6 separate regions of the Homo sapiens genome follow, and all the other regions are linked to region 2. Evidence: fine-mapped expression QTL. A gene starts in region 2. Each other region holds a variant in brackets. All regions are shown on one strand. Distances are between the middles of the regions.

Region 1 (4,811 bases), 170 kb after region 2:
GTTAGACTTATTCACAGTTATTTGAATTTGGTGTTGCTGATGCAAATTTTTTAAATTTCATTTTTAAATTCTTTGAGGCTAGTTTTTAGAAGCACAATTGATTTTTGCTAAACTTTTTATTCTGCTAGTTTATCTGTAGAAACTCTAGAATTTTCTACATCCTCAATCATGTCTTCTGAAAATAACAACTTTGTGTCTGCCTTTCCAATCTTTTTATGGTTTTGTTCTCTTGCCTACTGCACTGGACAGTGACATGCAATACAATGTTGACCACAGTGGTGATGACAAGCATCCTTATTTGTTCTCAGTCTCTGAGGATGGTTTTCCATTTTTCCTGTTAATTATGTTGTAACTTCTGTATCCACAGCTTCCAAAGACCTCTTTCTATATTCTGTTGTTTCTGTTGGTCCTTATACACATTGTCTTTTATTCCCATGAGCCTGGTTATCGTTGATTGTGTTTTAACATTTCATTTGAAAAAAATAAAACACTTTGCAGAAATAATGACCTGGGATGATGTCATTCTCCTTCAGAGAAGATTTTTGTTTCTTTCAGCAAGGAGCCTGGGGGCATGAGCAATAATTCCAGGAGTTGAGATTCCTTTCCTGGGACACTTAGATGTCTCAAAACCAGTTTGCAGCCCTTGTGAATGTTGGTTGTTGCTCACTCATCCTATTGCTAGGGTGCAGCCCTTCTGAAAGCCAACCCCAAACCCATACCTTTGGCAGGCCGTAGGCCCCAGTCTTTGACCTTCAGCTCTGCAAGATGGTGAAATCACTGCCCAACTTCTCACCTCTCTTTTGGAGATTGGCAAATCCCTGTGCAAAAAGAGGTCCCCACTACTAGTTTCACTTCTCTAAGATTTCTGTGGCTCCTGAGAGCTTGGCAAAGTAATCCTTTACTACATAGCTAGCTTGACGGTGCCTTCGAGCAAATCTCTTTTTAAAGGTTTTGTCTGTTTGTCCTTAATAGGATGCCCCCAAATACCTAAACTGCCATTGCCAGGAATCAAATGACTTTTGTTGATCCAATGTTAAGATATTTTAACTTGCCAGAATCTTGCATTCTTTCATACTCTTGGGAACATTGACTTGATATCTGAAGGTGGTGTTGACTTCTCACCTGAAATAAACCTATTGATGTTGCAAGGAAGAGGAGGTCCCCTCACACCCAGGGGGCAGCTGGCAAATGGAATTGAGGGGCACAGACCTGCTGGCTTTCTCCCTGTTCTGACCCAATCCCAGGTGAGTGCTGCTCCTGAATTGGATCCTCTCCAAGAAAGGAGGCCGCACCACTGACACCCAGACCTCTCCCGCCTGGGCCAGTAGCTCAGGGACACTAAGCGGTGTCTGAGGCAATGAAGCCTCCTGCCGTTGTCTCTCAACAGGCTGGAGCCAACACACACAAACACACACAGTCGAGAGTCGTTGTGGTGCCCAGAGAGCCTGGACACAAGGTCCTGTGTCTCCTGGATCCCCCACCCCTGGGCCGCCCCTCCACTTCTCTCCCACCTGGGGAGCCCTTGAGTTTGGAAACCCAGTCTACACACGCTGGCTCAGAGAAGTTGCAAACCACAAAACAACACCTCTCCCTGCTCCTTAGTCCTGCTACCATCTGACTCTCGTTAGTGACTATTTCTATACGTTCTAAAAATCCCGCACAAAGTGTCCACAGCGTGGCCTGGCTAAGCATGATTCACAGCACGAGATGCGGAGTAGGAACATGGCCTCAGGGATTTGGGGGAACAAGAGGCATCCCCACCTTCAGGTGAAATGAGCAATCCCAGTGATCTACAAGGCGTTAGACAGAATTGAGTCCAATGCCTGGCTCTTACTAGTGGAGTGACTTCAATTTCTCCAGCTGTAACTTTCAAATAATTTACTCCACCGAATGGGGCTGGTGCAAGATGATATGATGGAAATAGTATTTGGGACATAACAAGTGCTCAACATTTTTTTCCTCTCCATCCATGATAAGTGCCTGATGACGGACAAACCCTGAATTTTCTGGGAACAGATGAGGCAAGGAAGCGTCTTCAGCAAAACCTTCCTTATCCCCCAAGGTTAAGGTCAAGGTTTCCGAGTATTGCTTGGGGACAGCTGGGGAATGGAAAGGGGGTGTGGGGGCTGTGTTCTCCTTAAGCCACAAGCAAAGCCGATGCTTTCCAGCAGAGGAGTCTCAGGAGCTCTCTGGACTGGGAGCAGGGTGTCTTTGCTGGGGGAAGAGAGCCCAATGGGGTGGGCATCTTGCTGGAGCCTAGTGGAAGGAAACATCCTTTGAGATGACCTCATACCTCCTGTTGGTGCAACTAAGCAGCCCATAGGAAGTGGGTGTCCCCCAGGGAGTTGAGAAACTGTGGCACAAGGCGAGAGCTGGTTTCCTCTGCCCTGTTAGAGCTGGGGGACTCTTCAGAGTCAAAGGCCAGAGAGCATGGAGCTGAGTGGAGCCACCATGGCCCGGGG[G/T]CTCGCTGTCCTGCTAGTCTTGTTCCTGCATATCAAGAACCTGCCTGCCCAGGCTGCGGACACATGTCCAGGTGAGACAGACCTGGGTTTTCTGGTCCCTAAAAGCTGGTAACAACCCCACTCACTGACACTCGGGTGTCCCAGGCAAAACCTTTTATGCACATCTTCCTGTGAAGATGCCCAACAGATCTGTTTTATCCTCAGGCAAGGACATGGAGGCTCAGGGCAGCTGAGGCATTGCCCAGGGTCATGGAGGGATAGGGGAGGGATGTCACCAGGTCTGTCTGCCTCGAAAGCCCAGGATTTGCCCATTGGAGCTTCATAGGTGGGTCTGGAATCTGTCACTGAGAAGGAAGAAAATACTGTTGACTTTATCTTCTTACGGGCTTACCAGGGAGGCACTCTAAGACCCTCTAATACGGTGGCTGCCACACGGACTTGGGGGGTTTGTTAAAAAGGCAGATTTCTGGCTCTCCTCCAAGAGAGTCGGAATCAGTTGATAGGGACAAGGGTTTGAACGGTGGTAAGGTGTTTCCCTCACTGATTCAGGAGCAGGTGGTTCTGTGACGCTCAGCAAGAGACTGCTCCTAAGGACGGCCTGGTGCCCCTGGCTGATAACATATTTATGAAGGAAACATAAATAGTAAATTACAGCCTGCTCTAGTGGAAGGAGGACTGGAAACACAGAAAGGAAATACCCCAAAAATGGCAGTGCCATGTCTCCGGTGAGAGCACTGCTCCGTTCCATGGTCTCTAAGAGCGCCCTTAGCAGGGCGTGTAGATTTTGTAATGAACAAAATGAAAAATATTTTTTCAAAGAAGTAAACAACTTTGGTTTGGCTGCAGCTGTGCCACACCTGGCTCTGTGTCCTTGGACCCCACACTGCCCCTCTCCAGAGGACCTAGAAAGCCCCTTCCAGCCCAGTAATTCTACAACCACATTCCCAAGGTCTGGGAGGGAAAATGCTTTGTCAGCCCCAATTCCCCAAGTTTCTTAGAAATATTGATTGTCATTAGTTATTGAAAGTGCCCGCTGTTTATTAAGCTCTTTCTAAATGCCATAAATTACAATAAGAGATTTAAAATGCACATTCTTTAACCAAATCCTGGCCGCAACCTTGTTATTATCCCCGCTTGGCAGCCCAGGGCACAAAGCTCAGAGGAGTTAAGTTACTTGCTGCAGGACACACAGCACTGAGGAGATGGGGCTCCCCTAGGTCGGGGTGGCCTCCAAAGCCAGAGCTCTGCCCCCCATCACATCTCCGCCTCACCAGTGCCTGAGGGGTGAGGACAGACCAAGGCCCCAGCAGAGCAGAAAACCTCACTTCCCAGCCACTGTTGGGCCAGGCACTGAGTGGGCACCTGTGTTTCTCTGCAGAGGTGAAGGTGGTGGGCCTGGAGGGCTCTGACAAGCTCACCATTCTCCGAGGCTGCCCGGGGCTGCCCGGGGCCCCAGGGCCAAAGGGAGAGGCAGGTGTCATTGGAGAGAGAGGTAGGTGCGGGCCGGGTGGGGAGGCCAGGCATGGCAGGGGCACTGGCTCTTGCTCTTTATGAAACTGGATGCAGAGTTGGGCAACACCCCCACCGTGGTTCCTAGATCAAGAGCCTGGGTCAGGCCCCTGCTAGAGCCAGGAACAGAGCTGACTCCCAGGGCCCAACAGGGTTCTGAAATGGAGGGAGGGTCTTTCCTAACTATTTCATGAGCTCACATTTGGACATGCTTCTGTAGCTCTGTCTCCTAGTCCTTGATCCAATACCAGCTTTGCTCAGCTACTGGCACGACTTCTAAGCTCTGTGTCCCTCCACCTTCTCACCTGAAAATTGAGGTGACCGCTTTCTTCTGCACCTGCCTCATATGGGAAAACTGAGACTCAAAGAGGTCACAGGCTTTCCTACTTGACAAACCAGTAAGGAGTGGGGCTGGGACTTGGACTGGTCTACTTCAGGGCACAGAGGGCACCCGAATCCTGAGCCCTGAGCTCTGCATGTGGATTTGCAGGGAACATGGGAGAATGAACAGCAGGCACCTGCCTTGGGTGGTTTTGGGTCCCCCTAAGCATGGCATAAGGCAGACGTGCACAAAAACTCAGAAAGGGCGCTGCCTTAGGGGGTGAGCTCCCCATGCCTGGACGCATTCAAGATGATGCCTGCGGAGCACTTGGTGGGGATGTCCCAGTGTAGATGGGACAAGCTCAAATGTCCCTATGACTTGGACTTTCACTGACGTGTCTAGGCTTCCGTGTGGGTGTCCGGGGCCAGGTCCTCTGTGCCCACTCCGCAGGCTGGACCTGAGAGTGCGGTCCCGATCCCCTGCTGAGGGAACACTGGGGAGGAAGACCTTCCCTGGCA
Region 2 (4,811 bases):
GCCTTGGTGCTGGTGTGAGCACACAGGCATGTACACACACACACACACACACAAACACACACACATACAAACTCACACACTCTGCGCAGACTCACCTTCTCCAGTAGCTGCCTCAGCTGTTTTGTGCGGGCATCCCGTGAACACATGGTCTGCTGTGGAGCGACCACTGTGCAGATACACCTGCCCTCGCTGTCCTGGGCAGAGCTGTACACCTGCCAGCTCTCCTCAGGGTTGGTGGGCAGCACCTGGAGAGGGGCGGGGCGGGAAGGGAGAGGGAAGGAGAGAAAGGGAGACCATGAGGTTGTGTATCAGAGCCAACAACCAGGGGAAACTGTCCACATCCACCCCCAAGGAAAAGATGGGAGGAAATGGTCCCAAGACATGTTTGACCCAAAGGGAAGAAAGGGTCCCTGGGAACAAAGAGGCACAGGTCTCCTGTTAGGGGGCTCAGGGCTGGAAGGATGTCAAAGAGGCAAGACCCTTTACGTTCTTAAAATTTAAGTTCAACTCAAGGGATGTCTGGAGTTTGTCGTCTGGCCAAATTGATCTGCTGGGTGGATGGGAGGGGCAACTGGAGGCCACAGGCTGGACTAGGAGCAAGGCAGGAAAGCAAACGCTGGGTGGCTTGCAGCGGGCACGTATTTCAGAAACAGGATATCCTTCCCGTAAGTCAAGCACGGGTGGCTGGCACCACCAAGCCTCGCCCTGCCGTTCCCTGACACTTGCAGACGAAGCACCCACTGTAACAGCCCCAGATCCAGCAGCCTATTCGCCCAGAGCTGTGATGAACCCCGAGCTACAGCAACCTCCCAGCCGGCAGCGTGGCACAGACCGACCCGAGAAAACACTAGGTTTCCAGCTCCTTGTGGGCTCCCCCCACGAGCCATTTGGTGGAGGTCGCCAAATTGCTGGTGACATGCTGTGCAGGGGTCACCCCCAACCTCAGTCCTGAGGTTTGCCCAAAGATCACCAAAGAAACCGGAGCTGCCCATGTCTGGTCTAACCTTGCAGCCCAGCCCTGCCAGGTACCGGGGCGGGCACTCCTGAGCCTACACAGCTCCATCCTGCTGCTGGCCCTACTGTCTCTGAGCACGCTCCCCTCCGGTGGCATCAGGTCATCTCTCTGCTATTTTTAGCATGAAGATGGGGAGGAGAAGTTGGGCGGGTAGAATCTATAGTAGTCATATCTTTAATCTCATTCATTCCCAACCCCAGAAGATCGGGACCGGCAGGCCGGAACAAAGTCATCATGGAGGAATCGCCCTCCGATTCCTGAAGGAGCAGGGAGGGCGGCCTCAAGAGGGGTCTTAGGAGGGAGCCACACCACGGAGCCCTCTTCGCAGGGCACTAAACCCCTGGCAGCAAAAAGAGAGAGGGAGGGAGACTCACGTCCTTCACCTCTCCTTTCAGCCTAAAGGGCCAGTGGTCTGGGGCGCGCCTTCCCGGCAGCGGCCCCTTCCCCGCGCGGCCCTCCGGGTGGCGGTTTCAGCTCAGCCTCGCTCAGCCATCTAAGTCAGCTCTGCCCAGAAGCAGCCCCGGCCACGGTTCCCCTCCCGCTAGGCTCGAGAGGGAGACGCGATTTCAATTTCAGAGGCCAGGAGGGAGGGGTGCGCGCAGAAGACGAAGGCAAAGGCGAGGGGGTGAGCGCCCAAGGGCAGGCTCCCAGGGGCCCCACCCAAGCCCCTCGGCACCGTCCTCGGAGGAGAAGGAACAAACCCTCCTATGGACTGGGGAGGAAAGGGCGCCTTGGGACTTTGGGAATGCAGGCGCGGGCAGGAGCTCCGGAGCCCACCGGCTGGGGCCCCACTCCCAGCCCGGTCCGGCCAGTCTGGCTTTTACAAACTAGGGCGGGCTCAGTCCCCGCTGGACCGAGCCCAGACTAGGGTCTAGCGGCGGCTCCACCCCTCACTCGCTGAGTGTGACCTTGGACAAGTCCCCAAGTCCCCAGCCTTAGTTTCCTAACCTTTTCAATGGGGGGCTCATGATTACTGACCCAGGACTCCAAGCCTCCGAGAACCCACCAAGCTCCCCCGGCCCCGCGGCGAGGGGCCCAGACGAAGGAAACGCCGCCCCAGGGGCGCGCGGGCGGAGATGGAGTGGCCCAGGCTGGGGGAGCGGGGAGCAGGGTCGCCACCGCTGCGCCGGCCCGCGACGCCTGCCCTTGCCCGCCCTGCTCCCCGCCGCCTCCCTGGGCGACTCGGGTCCCGCGCGGCGCCCGCCCAGCCCGGGGCTCCGGACCGAGGAGGGGGAGGAGGAGGAGGAGGAGGAGCCGCGCCAAGGCGGCCGGCGGGCGCACTTACGCCGGTGCTGCGGTCCAGCGTCCCGCCGCCGGCCGCCGAGAGCTTGGTGGTGTTGAGGCCCACCAGCGAGGGCAGCGTCTGGGACATCCAGTTAGTGATCATGGCCATGGTGCTCAGCACGACCCCGATCTTGAGCAGCGGCACCGACATCGCGCCTCGAGCTGCCTCCAGCGCCCGCTCCGAGCTGGCACCGGCTCCCGCGCCCAGGCGGCCTTCAGGCGGCGGGCACCGCGGCGGGCAGGGGCGCCTGGCTGTGTCCCCGCGCCCCCTCGGCCCGCCGCCGCCCGCCCGCCGCCGCCGCCGCCCCGCGCGCCCCGGCCATCGCCGCGCCTTCCCCGGGCGCCAGGGAAGGTGGCCAGGTGGCCTCTGCCCGCCGCGCCCTGCGCCTCGCGCCGCCCGCCCTGCGCCCTGCCTTGCCCGGCTGCGTCCCTCCGGGCTCCTCCGCCGCCACCGGGAAGCGCCGTCCGGCTCTGAGCGCTGCGCGGGCTGCGCGCGGGGGCCGCGGCCGGGAGGCGGGGCTCGGCCGGGCGGGACCGACGCAATCCGCCCAGGAAATGGGTGGATTTTTCCTCTCGCTCGGCTCCCCGCCGCCCCCTGGCTGCTGGCAGCGAGGTCTGCAAACTCCAGTCCGCCCAGGAGTTGGGATCAGGGTGACATGAGGAGACGGACACACCACCACCCCCAGATCATAAAATACCCGGCGGCGGCGCGGGGACTCCAGCTGGGGGCACGGCCCGCGGCCCTCCCGTCCCGGGGCTTCTCCCATCCTCACGCCGGGGCATCCCTCTCCGATCCCCGCAGAGGGTCCGCTTTGGGGCAAAGGTTGCCGGCAGAGAGACGGCGCCGTCCTGCCTACTGGAGCCCTTTTCCGCGGTGATTCGAGGGTCCCAGCCAGCCTGGGCCGTCGCCTGAAACCCAGCAGGCAGGGCAGGCTCCGAAAAGCAGCCAGACTCGCGAGGGCCTCCAGCGCCAGGGGGGCGTCGGGGCATCGGTGGAGAGCTAAAGGCGCCCCTGCGATCCCAGGGCAGCCGCGGTGCCCTAAGGCCTTGCTTGGGAGGAAGGGAGCCAACCGGCACTCCTGACACCTGCACAGCAAGGCGGGGGCTGGGGTGGTCTGCCGTGGCCCGCGGTGCGCAGTGAGGGCCCTGGGAGGGCGCACACCCGGCAGGAGCTGCATAAGGTCTGGGGCTCAGGCCTGGACCTCAGGAGCTGAAGGGACCACGCCCATGAACCTGGTGTTGGGGAGGTGGGTGTGTGGGGCGGGGACTGGGGTCTGTGGTGGAGGGGTGTGGGTTGGGGGGTGTCCTTACTGACTCAGGGGTGGCGCTCGAGTCATGGCGCCCAGGCACAGAGGCAGGGCAAGTGGCGCACGCTGCCCCTCTTCCCGGCCCTCTGCGGCGACCGCAGCAGGACTCACGCGTGTCAGTCCCACCTGAAGCGCAGGCCTGACTGGGTCAAACACGTTAATAGGGCTTTTGCATTTACAGAAGGCTTCTAATCGGAGATGAAAGCCACTTCCTCCGGGGCCTTCCATTAAGCTTTCCCAGCCATTTGGGAAGGAAAGAATCCTCCAGATCACTCACTACACTCTTCTCTGCCTGGGCGAAAATTAATCTCCCTTCCTGGATGGGATTTGAAAGACGGACGCCGGGCCGGAAGGAGCGCGCCTCCCTGGCGCCCGCCTGAGAGGAACAACGCCTTCCTGGGGCTTTTCTCTCTGTGTGCGCAGTCCTCGGCTGAAGAGACTTCAGCTGCAGCCAAGATGATCCTGGCCTGAGTGCTGGGTGTGAGACCCGCTAGTTAAATGAGCCCCTCAGATCTGCTTTTCTGATTAATGCTGTAATCTCAGGCAGCCGGGCTGGGTCGGATGCCAGGAAATTCCAACTGTTGGGGAAGGGCGCCATCTCCCAGTGTAAGCTGGGACTGCAGGCCCGGCTCACAGACTGGGCCCAGGCGGAGACACAAGTCCGGTTGGGCTGGCTTCGCCCCCCTCCTCTGGCCATGCATGTTTAACACCGATTCAAGGCCACAAGCCGTGTCTGTCCAGATCACTCACGCCGCTTCCCGCTGCGGAAGGACAAGGACCACTTGTTCTGCGGGAACAAATTCAAATGCAACCCAATCCAATCCACAAAACTGTCAGGCCATCTCAGAAGCCATAGACATTTATTTATTTAACGAAGTAAAAGATTAACCTGCACTTGGACTGCTCTAACCTGCACCTGAGCGGCTCCAACCTGCACCTGAGCGGCTCCAACCTGCACCTGCTCCAAACTGTCCTGTCCAGTTTCTAAAATCTGTGATTCAGTGGGCATAATGGTTTTGAAAGGGTCGTCAGATAAGGCTTGAGTAAGTGTAATTGGATTTAGAAGGCCATGGAGCATTCCAGAAGGAAAGTATGGATCGTTGAAGAATGAAGGCATTTGGATTAGGGGATCCATGGCGCCAGGCAATACCAAGTGTTCCTAAAGAGGACTTTCAATCCCAATTTCTTCACGACTTCTCTTAAAG
Region 3 (4,811 bases), 100 kb after region 2:
CATTGTGGTTTTGATTTGCATTTCTCTAATTGGCCTGCGTTCTTTATATGGTGTCTCAGGGCAGTGGGATGCCAGAGGGGAAGCTGTGAGATCCCAATTTTCACCACCTTCCTCACCACTTTCTACAGCTCAAAGCCAGTCTCAAGGCTGGCCCAGATGCAAGGGGCAGGAAACAGCCTCCACTTTCAGTGGAGCTGCAGGGTCACATTGAAAAGGGCCCTACACGTGGGATGGGAGACATGGTGGTGCCATCCATGCAAACAATTCCACACCATAGGAAGACCTCAGTGGTCCAGACATCAGCCTCAAAGAGGGACATTCCTGAGACTCTGACCTGACCACATTCTCAGAAATGGAACAAATATCAAAGGGAAGGCTCAGGGCACCCGCGGCCATGGGAAATGGGATAATGAGCCACAGGCCAGGGGACTCGGAAGGCAGGAGACCTGGATCTCATAGGCATAGAGTGGCATTCAGGAGAGGGCTTTGGTGGCAGCTTCCACATTTTATATCAACATGGAAACTAAGTCCAGGCAGTAGAGGACTTTCTCAAGGTCACAAAGAAAGGTGGTGGCTAAGCGAGAACTGGAATCCCGGTGGTTCCTAGCCAGGGCTTTGCGGTCAGTGACCTGGTAGAAAGCTGAGTTTGCTGTTCATGACGGAGGCTCTTGCTTGCTGCCAGCCAAGTGAATGAGAAGGTGGCCGTGGGGATCAGACACCAAGAAGTGTGATTGGCAGACGCCAAAGGGCATAAGAGATTCCCCAGAATTAACGTTAGGGTCTGTCCACAGTGTGACTCTGGATAGAAGGGATGTCATACCTATTAGTCCCCAGGAAGATGTTTGTGGAGTAAATGAACAAAAGAAAGAAATGAATCAAGGTCTTGTTTGCACTTGTGCTAGTGTGTCTGCTGCTGGATTGAGTGTGTTAAATATTCAACTTCACCGAGCCAGCATGACACCTGTATATGCCGTTCTTACTACCATCTCGGTTCAGGACTTCTCCTCCACCTGTAACATCCCAGCGGGCAGTCTCTTCTCGTGCACTCAGTGATGGGGACTCACCCCCAAGGAGGCAGCAGAGGAAGGCGGGGGCTCAGCAGGTCTATGTAGGATTTGGCACATCCTTCAAAACCAGGGCACTGGAAGCTAGACACAAGCTGCAAGATGTGGCAGCCGAACCCAACCTTAATGTCCTTGCCCCATCTCATGGCAGATGGCCAGAGGTCTGTCTGTTGTTGGCCACAGATGGACTCAAATGATCCCCAGGGCACTGTGGTAGACACGGAGATGGGCCCCAGACACCCTCTGCACACATGGCCTCACTGCCCAGCTGCAGGGAACAGTCAGCCCACAGTCTCAGCCATCGGCATCTTCTGAGCCAGCCTGGGCTGCCAAGAGCTGCCCCACTGAGCCCACACCCTTCCTGGGGAGCCATTCCATGGGATATTCCAATGAGGACCGTGTACCCCAGAGCTCCCTACCAGGTGGGCCAGAGGCTTTTCAGGTTGCACACAGCATCGTTCTGCCTGGTCCTGCCTCCGCTACTTCCAGGCGTTGGACCTCCTGGACGTCCTGCTCCCAGACTCCACCGTGGCCTCTGCTTCTGGAGAGCCCAACCTAGACAGACCCCACTTCTACTTGGGGCTCCAGTCGGCCCCTGGCTTGCATTCGTGAAGCATCCTGAATTTTTTTCACCCTGACCTCTGCTTCTCTGTGGCTCCGTGGCTGGTCCTGGTTCCCCATTCCCAAGGCTGTTCCGTGGCCGGGTCTGGGAAGGAAGGACACCCCTGCTGCAGTTCGAGTATCAGCAGCAGCAGGAGCCCTGTGGGACCTGCGCTGTGGGACCCACCCCGTGGTGATACTGTGATGGAGGCGGCCTCTCCGTCCGCTCCCCCGCCTCAGCCTCAGAACTGGCATCCAAGTGCTGCTTGCATGACTTTCCTGTAGCTGCTGGAACAGAGTGCCACACCCTTGGGGGCTTCAAACTACACACATTTATTTTCTTACAGTTCTGGAAGTCAAAGGTCTAAACCAAGGTGCCAATGGGGCTGGCTCCTCCTGGAAGCTTCAGGGGAGAACCCCTTCCTGCCTCTCCTGCTTCTAGAGGCCTCCTGCATTCCTTGGCTCGTAGCCCCTTCCTCTACCTTCAAAGCTGGGAACATCACGTGAAAGTTGTCAGAATCAAAATAGAGTCACTTGTGTCAAACCCTAACAAAAAAAAAAAGTCAAGAGGCTAAGAAGGGCCCTCCCTGCCCCACACACCTGCCGGCGGTAAGAACTATCATAAAGGCTCTCTGAAGGGCTCTTATCTACATATGCCTGTAGCAAGAACTTTTCCGAAGGACTTTCCAAACTGCCACTTGCTATCTGAGTCACAGGGACAGCTGGTCGGATGCACAAGAACCCTTGCCTGACACGCTGTCTCCATCTCCAGGCATGAACTGACGTCAACTCTCACAACAAGACTCTGTGACCAGGGTTCTCTTTGCTTCAAAACAACTTATGTGCATGCCTCCCTTTGCCTTTAAAAGCTTCCCCTTGCCTCAACCTCCTTGCACATGCCTGTGGTCCCCACAGCCCTCGTAGCCAGGACAGGAACCCCGCCTATGCACTCCTGGATACACTCAGCATCACTGGACGAGCTGTCTCTGTTGCTTAGGTTGACAGTGGCATCTTCGACTCTCGCGTTGACCTCTGCTTCTGTGGTCATATCCTTTCTGACTTGGACCCTCCTGCCTCCCTCTCATAAGGACTCTTGTGGCTCATGGGGCCACCCAGATAATCCAGGATAAGCCCCCATCCCAGGGCTCTTCACCTAATCCCACCTGCAGGGTCCCTTTTGCCATGCCAGGGAACATACTCACAGGCTCTGGGTTTAGGGTGTGGACATACTTGGAGCCGTTATTCAGCCCACCTGAGTGCCTTATTTAGGGAGGGACAGGAAGGGCCGAGTGGCAGATAATCGGGTCAGATCCTGCGGGCTCTGTGGGTAGCCGCCGGCAGGTGGC[G/A]GTAACTGACCTCAGGCCACACTTGGACTTGCATAAAGCTATGGGTCAAGTTCCTCCGGGTGAAGTGCAGTCCCCACCCCCGCCCCCTGTGCTCAGGGTCCTTTGCGCCTGCTATTCCTGTGCACGCAGAGAAAACTGCCCCTCGGGCCTTCGCGTGGCTGTCCTTCCCCACTCCAGCAGGGCTCTGTTCCAGCGTCAGGATCTCTCCACCGCACGTCCAAAGTGCGGCCCACTCGTCGCCCCTTCACCCTGGCCTGTCCCTCTCAGCAAATGATCATCTCTGTGTTTACTGTGTGTCCTCGGTAGAACATAAGCTGCCCAAGGACAAACAGGGTGTGTTTTGTTCATGGCTCTTTTCCAGGGGCTACAGGAGCAATACAGGCATTTAGTGGGTGTCGTGGGGTTGAACTCTGTCCCCCAGAAAGATATGGGGAAGTCCTAGTTCCCAATACCTGCAAAAGAGACCTCATTTGCAAACAGGGTCTTTCAGGTGTAGTCAGGTTGAGATGAGGTTGTACTGAGGGGGGGTGGCCTTAGGAGGGGAAGGGGGTTCCGGAGACACACGCGGAAGATGGCAGCAGAGACTGGGGTGACGCCCCACTGACCTGGATGTTGAGCTCCCGGCCTCTGGGCAGCAAGGGAAGGAATTCCTGGGGGTTGAAGGCCCCTCATTCATGGTCTTTTGCTACAACAGCCCTGGGAAAGGAACAAGGCAGGATTCGGCTGTTTGTGAGGACGCACAGTCCAAGGCACCAGCACGAGGGTGCTGGCTGCGGACGGCTATCCTGAGCCTCTCCTGGCCTAGCCAGCCTGACTCTCCAGCCACAGCCCACCCAGCCCTGATGTGCAGGATTCCTTCGTTCTGCTGTAAAGATGGGGGCACCCTTCCACTTCAGTGGAATCTTTGAGCAGCTGCCTGTCATTTAAATAATTTCTCTTAATTTTTTAAAAAAGATAAATTTAAACATTTAGATAATTTAAAAGAAAACGCAGCTCCTACTGCCCTCCTTGTATAACCACCATCCTCTCACTGTCCGTCCTCCCCGTGGAATGATCATTATCTCGCCATCCTTCCTCCCTGTATAACCATCATCGTCCTCCCGCCGTCCCTCCTCCCAGTGTAGCCATCATAACCCTCTCGCTGTCCCTCCTCTCTGTATAGCCATCATCCTCTTGCCATCCCTCCTCCCTGTATAACCATCATCCTCTCGCCGTCCCTCCTCCCTGTGTAACCATCATCTTCCTCTCGCCATCCTTCCTGCCTGTATAGCCATCATCCTGTCGCCATCCCTTCTCCCTGTATAACCATCCCTCCTCCCTGTGTAACCATCATCATCCTCTTGCCGTCCCTCCTCCCTGTGTAACCATCATCATCCTTTTGCCGTCCCTCCTCCCTGTGTAACCATCATCTTCCTCTCACCATCCCTCCTCCCTGTGTAACCATCATCATCCTCTTGCCGTCCCTCCTCCCTGTGTAACCATCATCATCCTCTTGCCGTCCCTCCTCCCTGTGTAACCATCATCTTCCTCTCACCATCCCTCCTCCCTGTATAACCATCATCTTCCTCTCACCATCCCTCCTACCTGTATAGCCATCATCATCTCGCCATCCCGCTTGTGTAACCATCATTATCCTCTAGCCATCCCTCCTCCCTGTATAAGCATCATCTTCCTCTTACGATCCCTCCTCTCTGTATAACCGTCGTCCTCTCGCTGTCGCTCCTCCCTGTGTAGCCATCATCCTCTCACCATCCCTCCTCCCTGTATAACCATCATCTTCCTCTCGCCATCCCTCCTCCCT
Region 4 (4,811 bases), 130 kb after region 2:
ACATAGTACCTCAATCCAAAGAATGGACAGAATACAACAAAAGCGAAGGGTTATCACTTCCAAGATTAGAGGTTAAGTCACAAAAAGACCATGACTTCCATCTTGCATGCAGTATCTTGCTTTCTCTCTCTTTTGCAGCTCTTTTTCTGAAAGAAGCAGGCTGCCACATCATGAGTAGCCCCACAGAGTGGCCTGCATGGCAGAAAGCTGCTGACACAAACCAACAGCCATGCACGCAAGCGTGGAAGATGATACCATCCCAGTCCAGTCTTCAGATGAGATCACTGCCTTGGCTGGAAGCTTCACTGAGGCCTAGCGAGGAACTGTGAGCCACAGGCAGCCAGTTTAGCGATGCCCAGACTCTTGTCCACAGAAGAGGTGAGATCATGCACATTTATTGTTTTAGGCCTCTGGATTTTGGGGTGATTTTTTATAGAGCAATAGATAACAAATATACTTGGCGTTTAGGCCACAGGATATCAGAAAGGGTGTGAGACTTAGCTGTAGGAGGAAGAGATGTCACCCAGGGGTGGAGGAAGGGGTTTTGTATCCTCTTCTGGGCAGAGTGTGTTTTCAGTTGTTCAGAGGATCATGCTTCATGCTAGGCATAAGCAAGGATTTTGCTGTTGTCTTTATTCAGGCATTAAGTGTGTCTAAGTGAGTCATATATGGTGCCAGGTTGACAAGGGGCAGACCGTGGTGGGTTTCTATTGCATCAGCCCACCCAAGCAGAACTGTACTGCCCAGAATGCCCTTTCCTACATAGCCCCTGGTCAGTTTGGCCCCAAGAGGCATGGTGCAGAATTGGGAAGGCGGGAAGCAGTGGCCATGTTCTTTTTGTGCCCAGAAGGTTGGAGCTGTTGCAGCCCTGCATGCTGTCACCTGTGGGCAGGCACCTTGCCAGTGTGCAGCAGGGGACCCACAGCAGCCCTGTTCCTGCCATAGTCTTCCATGAGTTCTTTAACTCCCAGGACAGGTGTGACATTTAGCACCTGATGAAGGGCCCCATCTTCTCCTGTGGGATCCCAGAATTAAAGCTGGGGACAGCAACAGGGAGACTGCCTTGCAGAGGACATCCGACCCGGCAGTTTCCAGGGCGCTCCTGCTGCCCAACCTGACATGCAGCTCTCCTGCCCCACCACCTGCTCTTCTGACCCTAGGCTGCCACACCAGGCACAGAAGCAAGAGCCTTCTTTGACTTATCAAACATGGGCAAATCCTACAATAAATCCCTCAGCCACATTTCCTGGTGGTTCTGCCTCTCTGATCAAAGCCTAATACAAACCTAATCCCCTTATAGTGAAGCCTTGTTCCCCTGCTCCCAAAGGATAAGAAAGAAGCTCTTTGTGGTTTGCAGCAGTTGCCAGGAGAATAGCAGCAATGTCTGTAGCCAGCCAGACTTTCCAGTGAGGGGATCACACAGGGACACCCACGAAACTCACAGACATTGGCGGTGCCGTTTCGGAAGCAGAGACCAAGCCCCTGTGCCCAGAGGGTTCTGTGCCCCGAGGGCTGGGCTCGGTGGCTGGAGCACCCATGTGTGCACATGCACAAACACACACAGACACACACAGAAATACACACAGACACAAATGCACACAGACACACATGACACAGACACAAACACACAGAGAAATACAGACACAAATGCACACAAACATGACATAGACACAGACACACACAGTAATACACGCAGACATAAATGCACACAGACACACAGAAATACACACAGACACAAATGCACACAGACACAAATGCACACAGACACACATTCACACAGACACAAACACACACAGAAATACACACAGACACAAATGCACACAAACATGACACAGACACACACAGAAAGACACACAGACACACATGCACACAGACACACAGAAATACACACAAATACACACAGAGATACACACAGACACGCAGAAATACACATACAAACAGAGATACACATGCAGACACACACAGAAACACACACAGACACACATGCACACGGACACCGAAATACACACAGAGATACACACACAGATATACACAGACACATACAGAGAGATACACACACACAAAGAGATGCAGACACAGATACACACACAGACACATACACAGAAATAGACACAGACACACACAGGGACATAGACACACACATACACACACACATCGACACATACATATGCACACAAATACACAGAAACACATGCACACACATGAATACACATGGACATACATACCTAGAAACCCAGAGACACACGTGCACAGAGACACACACATACACACACACATCGACACATACATATGCACACAAATACACAGAAACACATGCACACACGTGAATACACATGGACATACATACCTAGAAACCCAGAGACACACGTGCACAGAGACACACACATACACACAACACACGTGAACAGATAAACACACAGCTAGAGACACACACAGATGGAAAGGCTACTGCAGCCCCATTTAAAATTTTTAACACCATGCCAGGAAAAATGGCACCTCCAGCTGCATCTTCTAGACTCTTTCTTGTTCATTCTCTGAAGTTGTTGGAGGGGAAAAGGAGCTCAGGAAGTATTATTCCACCTTGCCATGGACCAGTGGTGAGGGTGAGCCC[C/T]ACCGTGGTGAAGGACTTCCCAGTGTGGTACAGTTTAAAAGGAGGTCCAAGTCGGGGGGCAGCGTGAAGACCACGTGCTGGAGGACATGCCTCCTGTAGGTGTGATGCCCCCGAAGTGGGCAGCCCCTCTCTTGCCAGTCTGGGCTGCCCTTTTACTGCCTCCTCACCTCCTGCCAGGGTGATGGCACAGATGTCCCTGGCCCAGGCCACAATCTCCTCCAGGTAGCTCCTTCCACAGCAAAGGCCAAGGGGAGGAGAGATGCTACCATGGCACAGAAGCACCCGGTAGCCCCTGGCTGACTGGCCAAGCTGGGACAAGCTGAGCCAGAGGGACAGGAGAGCCTGCCATTCTGCAATGTGGACTGCATCAGAGGAGGGGGCGCAGAGCTAGAGGTTTCCGGAGCCCTCCAGAGTGTAGATAGGAGTCACTGCAGGGCCCACAGCTGTCAGCTGAGCCCTGCCTTCCAAGAAAGTCTCACTTATCACTGCTCCAGGATCAAACTCATTCATAATTTGTGTGTGCACCTGCATTATTGATGCTCCATCTGAAAACCCTGTCCTGGATAGGGTATTATGAATCTAGAGACTGGTTAAAGACCAGACTGATGGAGAAAATACATATTTGTGCATTAATCATCACCTTCCTCTGACATGGTAGCTCCCACAGTGACAGAAACTTGGGTTTGGAGCCTCTATTGTCTGGCTGTAGCACCTGCCATGCCAGCCCCAGGCCCAAGGTCACATAGTGGGAGACAAGGGTGAGCATGGATTCTCCTTACTTCCTTACTCTGCCAGCTGCCTTCCCTCTGCTCTGAACTGCGGGACCTGAACTCAGACTCCAGGGCACTCTAAGCCATGGCTGCATGGTGGGGTCCCTGGTAATGCAAGTCTTCTGGACACACTCACTCAGCTGGGGAGAAGTTTGCCAAGTTCTGGCTCAGATGACTAGGAGAGATGGCTTGGCCTCCTCAAGCCCAGGCCCTGGCAGGGCAACCAAATGCATCTCCCTGAACCCACCAGGCTTAGGTGCCAGAGGACAGGATTTCTATGTCTTCTTCATTGTTTTTCCCCAGTGCCAAGTGCATAATAGGAGCTCAATAAATATTTATTGAATAAATAATCTTTGCATGAATTGTTATAAAATCTCTGCCAGAGTCAGTGCTACTCGCAGACTGTGTTTCTCTCTCCTGACACTTGGTGGTTGTTAAATCAGAAATCGTCCCCTATCTTCATCCATCCAGCCGTCCACCCAATGGCACACTTCTAAACGATTTGTGACAGCTACAGGTACAAACATAGGTGACATCTGAATACATTTTTGGGCATTTGCATAGGGGTTGTTCACTCCTAAGGTCTCACCCTAACGACTGTGTTGGAGGTTATTGTGCCACGGGGCCTTAGGCACAAAGGGCTCGGGTTTGGTGCTGAGATTCCAACTTTAGCTGATGCATTGACAGTAGCATAGGAAGCAGCTGGTGGGTTTTATTTGCAGCCTGGAGGGGTCAGCACAGAGGAGGGTGGAAGGCGAGCATGAAGGAACAAGAGAAAGCAAAGGACACTGGGGTTCATGGCTGTTCACGGGTCTGCTGAGAACGGAGGAGGGCTTTGCTTTGGCACCGTCTAAAAATACTCAGAGTGCTCGTGATGCCCACAGCTAACTTCATACTTAATTCAGAAGGACTGAAAAAGCTTTCTACCTCTGATCAGAAACATGACGAGGATGTCCCTTCTCCCCACTTCTATTCAACAATAGGGTTCTAGCAAAACCTAGTCAGGAAAAAGAAAAGATATCCACATAGGAAAGGAAAAACAATCTCAATTTGCAAATGAAATGATCTTCCTAAGAAATCCATGAAAAATACTCTTAGAACAAATAAACAAGTTCGGCAATGTGGCAGGATATAAGATTAATATACAAAAATCAATTTTATTTCTACACACTTGTGATGAAAAAGCCAAAAATGAAATTTAAAGAAATTTCCACTTATAATTGCATATATACCTAGGGATAAATTTAACAAAAGAAGCCCAAGGCTTGCACACTGAAAGCTACAAAAGGTTGTTAACAGAAATGTTTAAAGACCTAGATAAACACAAAGATATCCCACATTCTTGAAGGGCATGACTTGCTGTTGTTAAGATGGTGGTACGCCCCCACATTTACCTACAGATTTGGTGTAATCCCTATCGAAATTCTGCC
Region 5 (4,811 bases), 150 kb after region 2:
ATCAGGAGCACAGGAGCTGTGCATGACCACACCACCGATTTCCTCTTGGGAGACTTCTAGGGGTGGGGGGCTGTGGTAGCAAATACAGAGTGTGTATTACCCCAGCGTTAACCACGCAACTCCTAGCCTGGAACACTTAAAAGAGGAACCTGCCACCCTCCATGAGGCTGGAGAATCAGCGGGAGTTTCCAAAAGGCAGCTTTGGTTTAAACCACAAGATAATGGAGGGATTTGCATTTTGCTGAAGAAACCCCAAAGTGCCCTCCGACATTGTTTCAGTTCTGATTTTTTGTTCCTTTTTGAACGTCTCCTCTTGAAGCAATTTCTGGCCAAATCACACAAATAAAGAGCTAGAGAAACGGGTTACAGCTCGCTTCCCCAACTTGTTAATTAGGTTTGGAAATGTCTAGAGGGACTTGAACTTCAGTGACCAACCACCCTGGTTTGCCCTGGGGACATGGGACTGTCATTGCTAATACTAGGACAGTTCCAGGCAAACCGATGGGATGGTCAGCCTGCCTGCACCCTGGTCATTGTCTTCACCCATTGTTCCCTCATAAAGGTTGATAAGCACCTCACCTTTTGTAGTTGGTGGAGTCGCTGCTCCACCCCTCCTTTCCCTCGGCTGTGATGACTGGCAGGTGACTAGCCAATCAGATTCTTCCCTAGGATTCTTCGTTGGGGATTGGTGGATCACATCCTCACTTGCCCCCCTAACTCACAGAGTATGATGGAGGTGACTTAATGGTGACCATGGCTGGCTGGGCTCTCTCTGCCTCTGAGAGAGCGCTCCTCTGTAGAAGGAGAGAAAGAACCCAGGCAGGGACAGTGTGTGTACGTGTGTGGGTGCGTGCATGTGCGTGTGTGAGCCTGCAAACCCACGTGCCCACCCCCAGCTGTCTCTTGTCACTGCCATGACCAGATCGGGGTGCTGGGAGGATGGAAGAAGCCGTGGTCCCGTGCTCTGCCCTCTACTGTAGCAGAGAACCCGCTACACAGAGGTGACTGTGCAGGGGTGAGGGAGGTGGCGGACAAGGTATTTATGTGCAATAAATATTTAATTCCACCCAGCGCTCCTCCCGTAGCAACGTGGATCCTAGATTAGTTTTATACATTCCACCCACATCACCATACCCTTCAGCAAGGTTGATCCTGTCCTAATGCGAGTTTAAAAATTAAATCCACTTCGATGAACAAATGTCCTTTGCAGCTTCATCCCATTCTTTTATGCAGAGTAAATATGTTTGCACAATGGCTCTGGGAACAGCGCTCCAGAGCGGATCACACACGCGTACAACCCGGCTCGCGGCCCTGACTCCATGCATTATATATGACAGTCCCAATCCAGTCTCGCCACCGTGCTGGGGAGCGGGCAGCAGCTTGTCAGCGCCTTTAAATCAAGCGCGAAGCAGATTGTGAGCTGGTTCTGGGGAACAAAAAGCAGTAAAATAATTTGGGATTTTGAGAACCATTAGTTTAACTTAGGTGAGAATACGTGCCTGGAGTTTTCTCATCTGTTCATAAGCTTTAAAAATATACACAAAGCTGAACAACAAAAACAACCACCACCAAAAAAACAGCAATTGCCCCTTCTCCAAAACCGACCCTGCTTCCCAGTTTGTTTTTCCCGGGTTTGTGGAAGGTGACAGTGACCTCTCTCCTACACAGAGCTGTCGGTGGAGGCTGGAGATTTGGTCGCGCCACCGTGTTCTAGGGTTTGGAGACTCAATTAAGATATTAAAAATAGGACTTGGGGCCAGCAGGGTGCTTCCGTGGAGCTGTCTTTGTTTATGTCTTCAGCAAGCGGCCTGTGAAAGCCCCTCCAGTCCCAGGGAGGCTGGAGAGTTCTAAAGGGGATTATCTGCCTCCCGGGGTATAAATTCCAGTTTACTCTGACACAAACTATTACCCTGCAAACACTGGCCATCCGTCTTCAGGTGCCCGGCAGATACTCGGCGCCGGTGCTATTATCTCTGGGAAATTAAAGTGGGCCGCAGGGTGAGGGATGCTTACTGCTGGAGCCCCAGGTTCCTCTGCCTCAAGGCCGACGCTGACCTCCAAATAGTCCCAAGCATGAATTGGTTTGTCTCTCTGGGTGGTGATGCCCGACGTCCTCACTCTCACCCTCTGCTCCTTCGTAAGGGTTGATAAGCACCTCACCTTTTCTAGCTGGTAGGGGGCTTTATAAAGGGCAATGTTGCTGCTGCCAGCCCAGGGGTCTGAGCAAGGAGGAGGTGACAGTGCTGGGACAGAGGAAAGGGGAAGGAGAAAAGAA[G/C]GAAGGAAGAGGGGAGAGGAAGAAAAGACCATGTTGCATAGCAGAGCAGGGCCTGTCCCACCCTGCTATCCTGGGCTAGAGAAAATCCCCCCTTTAAAGTATTCAGAGTCAGGCTCCCTTCCTCACCATCTAAGAACCCCTGGGCCTGGGTGCTGGGGGAGGCCCACTCGGTACCTTCATCCCAGCACTCTTTGTCCAACGTAAAGGCTTTGTTGAGATGTAAATCACAGACCATAGAATTCACCCTTTTATTTTATTTTATTTTATTTATTTTTTAAAGACAGATTCTAACCCCGTTGCCCAGTCTGGAGTGCAGTGGTGTGATGTCAGCTCACTGCCACCTCCACCCCCCGGGTTCAAGCAATTCTCCTGCCTCAGCCTCCCCAGTAGCTAAGGTTACAGGCATGCGCCAACACGCCTGGCTAATTTTTGTATTTTTAGTAGAAATGGGGTTTCACCATGTTGGCCAAACTGGTCTCAACCTCCTGGCCTCAAGTGATCCACCCACCTCGGCCTCCCAAAGTGCAGGGATTACAGGCGGGAGCCGCTGCGCCTGGCGGAATTCGCCCTTTTAAAGTGCACAGGTTTTCTGTATAGTTACAGGATCGTGCAGCCATCATCATATTCTAGTTTTAGGACATTTTCATCACCTTAAAAGAAACCCTGGACCCTTTGGCTGTTACCCCCCTGCCACCCTTCTTCTCATCCCCTGGCCACAAGGAATGTTCTCTCTGTCTGTCAATCGGCCCATTGTGGCGATTTCCCGTCAGTGGAATCCTGGGCTGTGTGGCCTGGCTTCTCATGTGGGGCATGTTAGGAGGGCTTGCCCTGTTGTTGCCTGGACCCATGCTCCCTGCCTTCCGTGGCTCACTCTTGTTGCCCTCTGCTCCCTCATAAGGGCTGATAAGCACCTCACCTTTTGTAGCTGGTAGGGGGCTTTATAAAGGGCAATGTTGCTGCCAGCCCAGGGATCTGGGCAGGGAGGAGGTGACAGCACGGGGACAGAGGAAACGGGGAAGGACTCTCCCCTCTGTGGGGAGACCACACTGTGTTCATCCCTTTCTGTTGAGGGTACCTGGGTCACCTCCACCTTTTGGGGATTGTGAAGTGTGCTACTATGAACGTGCTTGTGCGGGGGTTTGTGTGGAGGCCTGTTTCATTTCTCTTGGGTATATTCCCAAGGTTGCTGCTGGGGGCTGTTGGAGGAGCTGCCAGCCTGTTTCTACCACAGCTGCCCCATCTCACATTCCCACGTCCTAAGCATGTTATTGGTCGGCTTTGCCTTGAGCACTGGAACAAACCACCCTGTTGGCAGGTGTGCCTTTTGCTGAACCCATTCTCTACAGATGTTAGGATCTCTTACTGCAAAGGAGATCCTGACACAAGAGCCGGGGGACCCTTGCCTGCCCATGAGGCCTGAGTAGTGGCAGGGTCACCAGCTGACGGCGACAGTGACTCCTGGAATTGGAAGACGGAGCCAGCGGGGCAGGGTGGGGGGTCAGGGGGTGGAGAGGAGAGTCAGCTTCAGCAGAGAAGGCTCTGAAAGGTCATCTGGTCTCAATGGTTGGAGTCCGTCCTGTTGCAGAGCTTGCTCAAAGCTGTACTGGAGCCCTGGCTTCTCGCCCACCCTTTCCCTGGCCTGGGCTGCCACTGGGCACTGCAGCCTGGACTATCTGGAGTCAGGGAGTTTATCTGGCAGGAGGCACCCATCCTCCAGAGGGGCCTGCCATCAGGTGCCCTCTGGAGAGGCTACCAGGGGCAGGGAACTGGGTCTGCTGGGTCGGCTTTTGCCTTTCAAACTTGGTAGCCACCCCCCAGTCACTCCAGGAAGAGGAAGAAGACACCTCTGAGGCTGGAGGAAAGAAATCGGGCAGAATTTACTCCCTTGCTACCAGAACTCTATGAATACCTGGCCTGTTTGTTCAAGCAGGCTTGAGCTCTGCTACCTGTGTCCCTGGTGTGCTGTGAATGGAGCACGAGACATAACACCAAGCAGGACCCATGGGGCTCTGCAGGGGAGAAGACAGACCAGGTTGTGTGTGTGTGTGTGTGTGTGTGCACTCATGTGTGCGTTCGTGCACGTGTGTAAAGAATGAGTTCTTACCACTCTAGACAATGGAGAACTAGTTTTTCTGGGCTTCGTTTTTAGTGAGTCATTGACTTCTTCCTAATCAAATGATCTATGTAGAAAAACACCAGTAGGACTGACAGATACATGGCCTATTTCTGCTAGACATATTGGGCCTACAGAAGTCCAAACCATTTCTTTTCCCCAGCAATGCCAATTAGAAAATATAATTCTGAAAAAGATGCCATTCACCACAGGAACAGAATTCATTAAGTATCTAGGAATCAACCAAAAATGTCCACTCTGATACAAGATGTGGAAGACAGTCTGAAGACGGGCAGGGCTCTGCGCGCTCCACACTCTCAGAAGCAGCGGCCTGATGTCAGGACAATGCCGAGTGTCTCCAGACGAACCCACAAATTCAACGCAATCGCAATCAAGAGTGCTTGTGGAGCTCAGCAGTGATGG
Region 6 (4,811 bases), 230 kb after region 2:
TTTGCCTGTAACGGGTAGAACACGGTTTATCAGCCAAATTTAAAGTCTCAAGAAGCACTGGACTTTCGAAATTGTGATTTTAATACAATGAAAAAATTACATTTGAATCGATCTTTTTTAAAAAACGAAGTAATTCACAGAGTGATCTCTGTGCGAGAAATAAAAGTAAGCAATAAAATACCGTGGAGGGAACCACCCACATCACCGGGACCAGGCACAGGTCGGCTGCGGGACCTCTGAGGGCTTTTTTGCTAAGGATGAGAAAACGGGGTCCACAGAGCTCTCTATGGGTCTACAGATGCTCCTGCCCCACCCCCAGCCTCCCTATGGATGCTCTATAGTAGCATTCCCTGCGCCAGCACACAGGGATTTGGCTTCCAACTATTGTGGTCTCATAAGTACAAGAGAAAAAGGGCTTGTGTTTAATAAACACCTACTATGTGCCAGGTACTGTTTTATGCCCTGTGGTGCAGTAGGGAACAGAAAGACTGGTCCTTGTGCTCTAGAAACCTGTTCTATTGAGGGCAAACAGAAAATAAACAACTAGACAAACAAATGAATGCATAATTATAATATCAGATCATATATCTCAAGAAAGCAATGTGGGCTGCAAAGTAAATACGAGTAGAGAGTATTATTAAGGAAAAGCAAACTGAAACAGCTATCTCAGTGGCTACACACACACGCACACACACACATGCGCACACACACGGACATGCACATGTAGGCACACACACACATACACACACACATGCACGCAGACATGCACACACACACGGACATGCACATGCATGCACACATACACGCGCACACACACACATGCACGCACACACACACACGTTTATTTGTTGCTGTCATAAAAGTACAGGGTAAGTGCCCCTGGCCAGACACCTCTCCTTCCACAGTGATTCCAGGTCCCCAGCTTCTTCTAGCATGTGGCTTTTCCACGTTCCATATGTGGCCCCTGTCCTGAGGTGGGTCTCCACTCCAGCCACTTGGAACTGGAAGAGAGCATGGGGGTGCCCGTGGCAGGGGCTTCTGGTGACTCCCTGGTGCCTAATGGTGATGGAGCACCTCCCTTCCACCTGTTGCCCCTCGGCCCCACCTGAACCACAGCTGGGTGACTGCAAGGAACACTAGGGAACGCAGCCTGGTTGTGTGACTGGGAACAGGAAACAGTGGTTGCTGAGCACGCAGGAAAATGAACTGAGGCTATCTGTAGGGTACGTCGCAAGGTCACTGTTTGTGTGGTGTGTGTTTCTCTATTCATTTGCTTTCATCCTGTTTGTCCCTGCAAGTGCCTTCTTGTAAACAGCGAGTCACTGGATCCTTCTTTTAAAAAAAAAAAAAATCCATCCTGACAACCTGTGCCTTCTGAGTGTTTAGTTGATTTACGTTTAATGTAATTATCGATATGGTTCTGTTAGGGGTACCATCTTGCTATTTATTTCATATCCTATCTTTGTTCTATCTTACCTATCTTGCCTTGAGCTGGTCAAGCATGTTTTAGTACTTCATTCTCTCTCCTCTGTTGGCTTTTTATTTATTTATTTATTTATTTATTTATTTTCATTTGTTTATTTATTTTGAGATGGAGTCTCACTCCGTCACCCAGGCTGGAGTGCAGTGGTGCCATCTTGGCTCGCTGCAACCTCTGCCTCCCTGGTTTAAGTGATTCTCATGCCTCAGCCTCCCAAGTAGCTGGGACTACAGGCACAGCCACCATGTATTTTTAGTAGAGATGGGGTTTCACCATGTTGGCCAGGCTGGTCTAGAACTCCTAACCTTCACCCGCCTCAGCCTCCCAAAGTGCTAGGATTACAGGTGTGAGCCACCACACCGTTTAAAGGAAAATCTTAAAAATAACCGGAGAAGAAGAAAAAAGGAAAAATTAATCAGAAGGGTAAACGACTTCTCATCATAAAAGGAGAAGATAATGAAAGAACATTTCTAAGTTGCTGCAAGACAAAAATTCTTAACTTAGAATTGTAACTAGATGATTCAAAAATGAAGGTGAAATGAGACTTTTTTCAGTTGAGTGAAAGCTGAGAGAATTTGTTGCCAGCAGATCCATACCCCCAGCAACGCTGAAGGGAGGTCTACAGCTCGGGGAGGTGTTACCAGATGGAAACGCTGATCCGTAGGGAAGGTGGAAGAACAGTGGAAGTGGAAGGTCTGAGCGAGACTCCGTCTCAAAAAACAAAAAAGGT[T/A]TTCCCTTGACCTTTTGTTTTTGGCAGTACGCCTTGGTGCGATTTTTTCTTTGTGTTTATCCTGCTAGGGTTTGCTTTTTTTTTTCCTCCCCAAAACGGAATTTCACTCTTGTTGCCCAGGCCGGAGTGCAGTGGCGTGATCTCGGCTCACTGCAACCTCTGCCTCCCAGGTTCAGGCGATTCTCCTGCCTCAGCCTCCCGAGTAGCTGGGATTACTGGCATGCATCACCACGCCTGGCTAATTTTGTATTTTTAGTAGAGACAGGGTTTCACCATGTTGGTCAGGCTGGTCTTGAACTCCTAACCTCAGATGATCCACCCGTCTCAGCCTCCCAAAGTGCTGGGATAACAGGCGTGAGCCATCGTGCCCGGCCTCCTGCTAGGGTTTCATCGAGATCTTAGATATGCAGGTTCATGCTCTTGATCAGATTTAGAAAGTTTTGGCCAGTATTTCTTGAACGATTCTTCTGCCTCATCTTCCCTCTCCCTTCTTTGGACTGCAATTGCACTCTCTCAGTTTGCTCACTACCTTCCCAGTGAAGACGGAGGCTTTGTGCACTTGTTCTAGAAACTTTATTTTCCATGCCTCAACTTTGGTATCTATGTCACATGTAAAAATGTTTATGTAGAAACAGAATGCTTGTTCCCCAGTGCTGCAAAGAAATAGCATTTGAACATAAATTTAATCCTCTCAGCAAGGCCTTTTGTACTTTCTGCAGAAAGAGTGCTCATCGCAGATGGAATAATGGCGAGAGCACATCCGAACAAAGGAGGGAAGCAATTTTTATTCCTTACGCAGTTTGTCCCTGCTGCTGTGTCCTGTCTCCATTGGCAGGAGCCAGACCTTACAATCTAAACTAAAACCTGATTGGCTAACAGTTTAAAACTTTTTTAAATAGGTAAAAGTAATGGAAAGACAAAGGAAAAGAGGAATTTGCTTATGAAAGGACTTAGAAAAGTAATAACATTTCCAAATAAGGAAGGGGCATGGGCTGCGAGCTGGGACATGCCTGTGAGCACTTCCAGCACAGATATTTTGGTTAAAGTACAAGGACATAGAATGTACTACATGCCTGTGAGCATGTCTAGCATAAAGCTAGTCTTTAAAAGAAACTATTATTTCTAATACTTATGATTTATTCTTTAATAAGAAGGGAAACTTTGAAGAGGAACTTTTTTACTTTCTACATCTATCAACACTTCTTTGTATTCCCTGATCCTTCCTTATATTCCCCATCTGATAAATGTTTAATTTTACATATCAAAATTTTTACTTTTAATATTTATACTTTGCTTGTCATTAGATTTCTGTATCTCTTTTGAAATCCTCCATTTCTCCACTCATTACATCTAAATTTTCTTGCATACAAATTAACATATTTATTCTACTTATTTAAATAATTTGCAAATTTCAGCGTCTGAACACTCATTCATTCATTTCCATTGATTTTTTTTTCCTTTTGATTATGGATTACATTTTCCTTCTTCACTTCCATGTCTAGTAAGTCTTGATTCTGTGCAAAGCATCGTGAATGCTATGTCATAGAATTCTGAATTCTGTACCCTCTCTCAGACAAAGCTGAGCTTTGTGCCAGCAGGCAGGCAAGTTGCTGGAAGATCACTTTTGATTATGTGGATGCTTGGCTTTAGACTTTGTTAGAAGGCTTCTGTGTTGTCCTTAATCCTAAGGTAAAAGCTTTAGTTCTGGAATATGGTGCTTATATAATGCTTAAGCATTGGGTCTCAATGGAAAGCCTGATTTGCCAAATTCATTAAAGTGTGGGGCTTGAACTCCAGTTGTCTCCTCAGCCCTGGGGAGCCGCTGGAATCTCTGCTCAGCCGTGCCAGCCTTCCAGCAGCTTCTCCCCAGCAGGTTCATTGGAGTCTATGTCAATTTGGTATTTTGGAATCCAGGTGACTAAGGGCCAGGGAATCCGGGCAGCCTGCCATGGGCTTTTAGCTACCAGTTCTGAGGGGCTCACTGTTTCTCTGTGAGTCTTGCCCATGGCACTTTGGTGAGGAGAGAAGGTGCCAGGAGGGAGGCCACATCTCTGCATGTTGACACCAGGAGGCAGGCAAGGCTATGAACACGTTCTGTCAGCAGATGCTGGGGCTTCCCCACATGACTCCCTCGTTTTCAGAATTTCTCACCCCAGTCCCAGCCACTCCGGTCGCCTCAATCTCTGGCAGCAAGTCCTCAGCCTCATCGTGACTCTGCATTGCCTTCCAATAGTTGTATTTTCGTAGGTTTTCCAGAGTATTTTTGTTCACAGGAGAGTTAATCTAATGTAAGCTTCTCTCAACTGTCAGATGCTAGAAGTCTGAGGCGTGAGTTGTTGTTTTTTTTTAACTTTTAGTTCCACAAAAGCTCTCTGAAAAGGTGACATTTGAGTCAAGAACTGAAAAACATGAGTCAGATATGCAATATTTGGGGTAAAGTCTTACATAAAGGAAAAAGTCTTGGCGGATCTGAGACACAGGAAGGGGGCCAGGGTGTCAGAGAGCAGAAGATGGGGTGAGGAGTGGTGGGAGCCAGCGTGGAAGGTGTTGACTGTATAGGTGGCCTGGGGTCCCCTCCTGCACCAAGTGGGGTGGCAGTGA

The links. PIP is the estimated chance that this variant, and not a neighbour inherited with it, causes the effect.
Region 1: its variant is fine-mapped to the expression of OLFM1 in whole blood (TOPMed, PIP above 0.99). The same link has a PIP of 0.9 or more in T cells and blood mononuclear cells.
Region 3: its variant is fine-mapped to the expression of OLFM1 in whole blood (TOPMed, PIP above 0.99).
Region 4: its variant is fine-mapped to the expression of OLFM1 in whole blood (INTERVAL, PIP above 0.99).
Region 5: its variant is fine-mapped to the expression of OLFM1 in whole blood (TOPMed, PIP 0.97).
Region 6: its variant is fine-mapped to the expression of OLFM1 in ovary (GTEx, PIP above 0.99).

What each region holds. Positions count from the first base shown.
Region 1 is chr9:134,915,491-134,920,301 of GRCh38, reverse strand. FCN1 (ficolin 1) reads left to right here and starts at 2,390. Exons shown (of 9, transcript NM_002003.5): 1 at 2,390-2,533; 2 at 3,841-3,954. The coding sequence starts at 2,431. The variant G/T (reference allele first, on the strand shown) is at 2,463.
Region 2 is chr9:135,085,629-135,090,439 of GRCh38, reverse strand. OLFM1 (olfactomedin 1) reads right to left here and starts at 2,772. Exons shown (of 6, transcript NM_001282611.2): 1 at 2,301-2,772; 2 at 96-245. The coding sequence starts at 2,450. RefSeq lists enhancers at 508-1,311, 1,312-2,116, 2,751-3,611, 3,612-4,472.
Region 3 is chr9:134,981,480-134,986,290 of GRCh38, reverse strand. No RefSeq gene overlaps it. Among named protein-coding and RNA genes, the nearest start is that of FCN1, 66 kb to the right of the region's middle. RefSeq lists enhancers at 2,624-3,212, 3,213-3,803. The variant G/A (reference allele first, on the strand shown) is at 3,011.
Region 4 is chr9:134,954,038-134,958,848 of GRCh38, reverse strand. No RefSeq gene overlaps it. Among named protein-coding and RNA genes, the nearest start is that of FCN1, 39 kb to the right of the region's middle. The variant C/T (reference allele first, on the strand shown) is at 2,612.
Region 5 is chr9:134,932,342-134,937,152 of GRCh38, reverse strand. LOC105376314 (a long non-coding RNA gene) reads right to left here and starts at 629. Exons shown (of 4, transcript NR_188683.1): 1 at 580-629. It overlaps LOC124902302 (a long non-coding RNA gene), which reads left to right. Exons shown (of 2, transcript XR_007061846.1): 2 at 1-363. RefSeq lists an enhancer at 4,057-4,116. The variant G/C (reference allele first, on the strand shown) is at 2,276.
Region 6 is chr9:134,858,094-134,862,904 of GRCh38, reverse strand. All of the region lies in intron 1 of LOC101448202 (a long non-coding RNA gene), which reads left to right. Among named protein-coding and RNA genes, the nearest start is that of MIR3689F, 9.7 kb to the right of the region's middle. RefSeq lists an enhancer at 4,332-4,621. The variant T/A (reference allele first, on the strand shown) is at 2,211.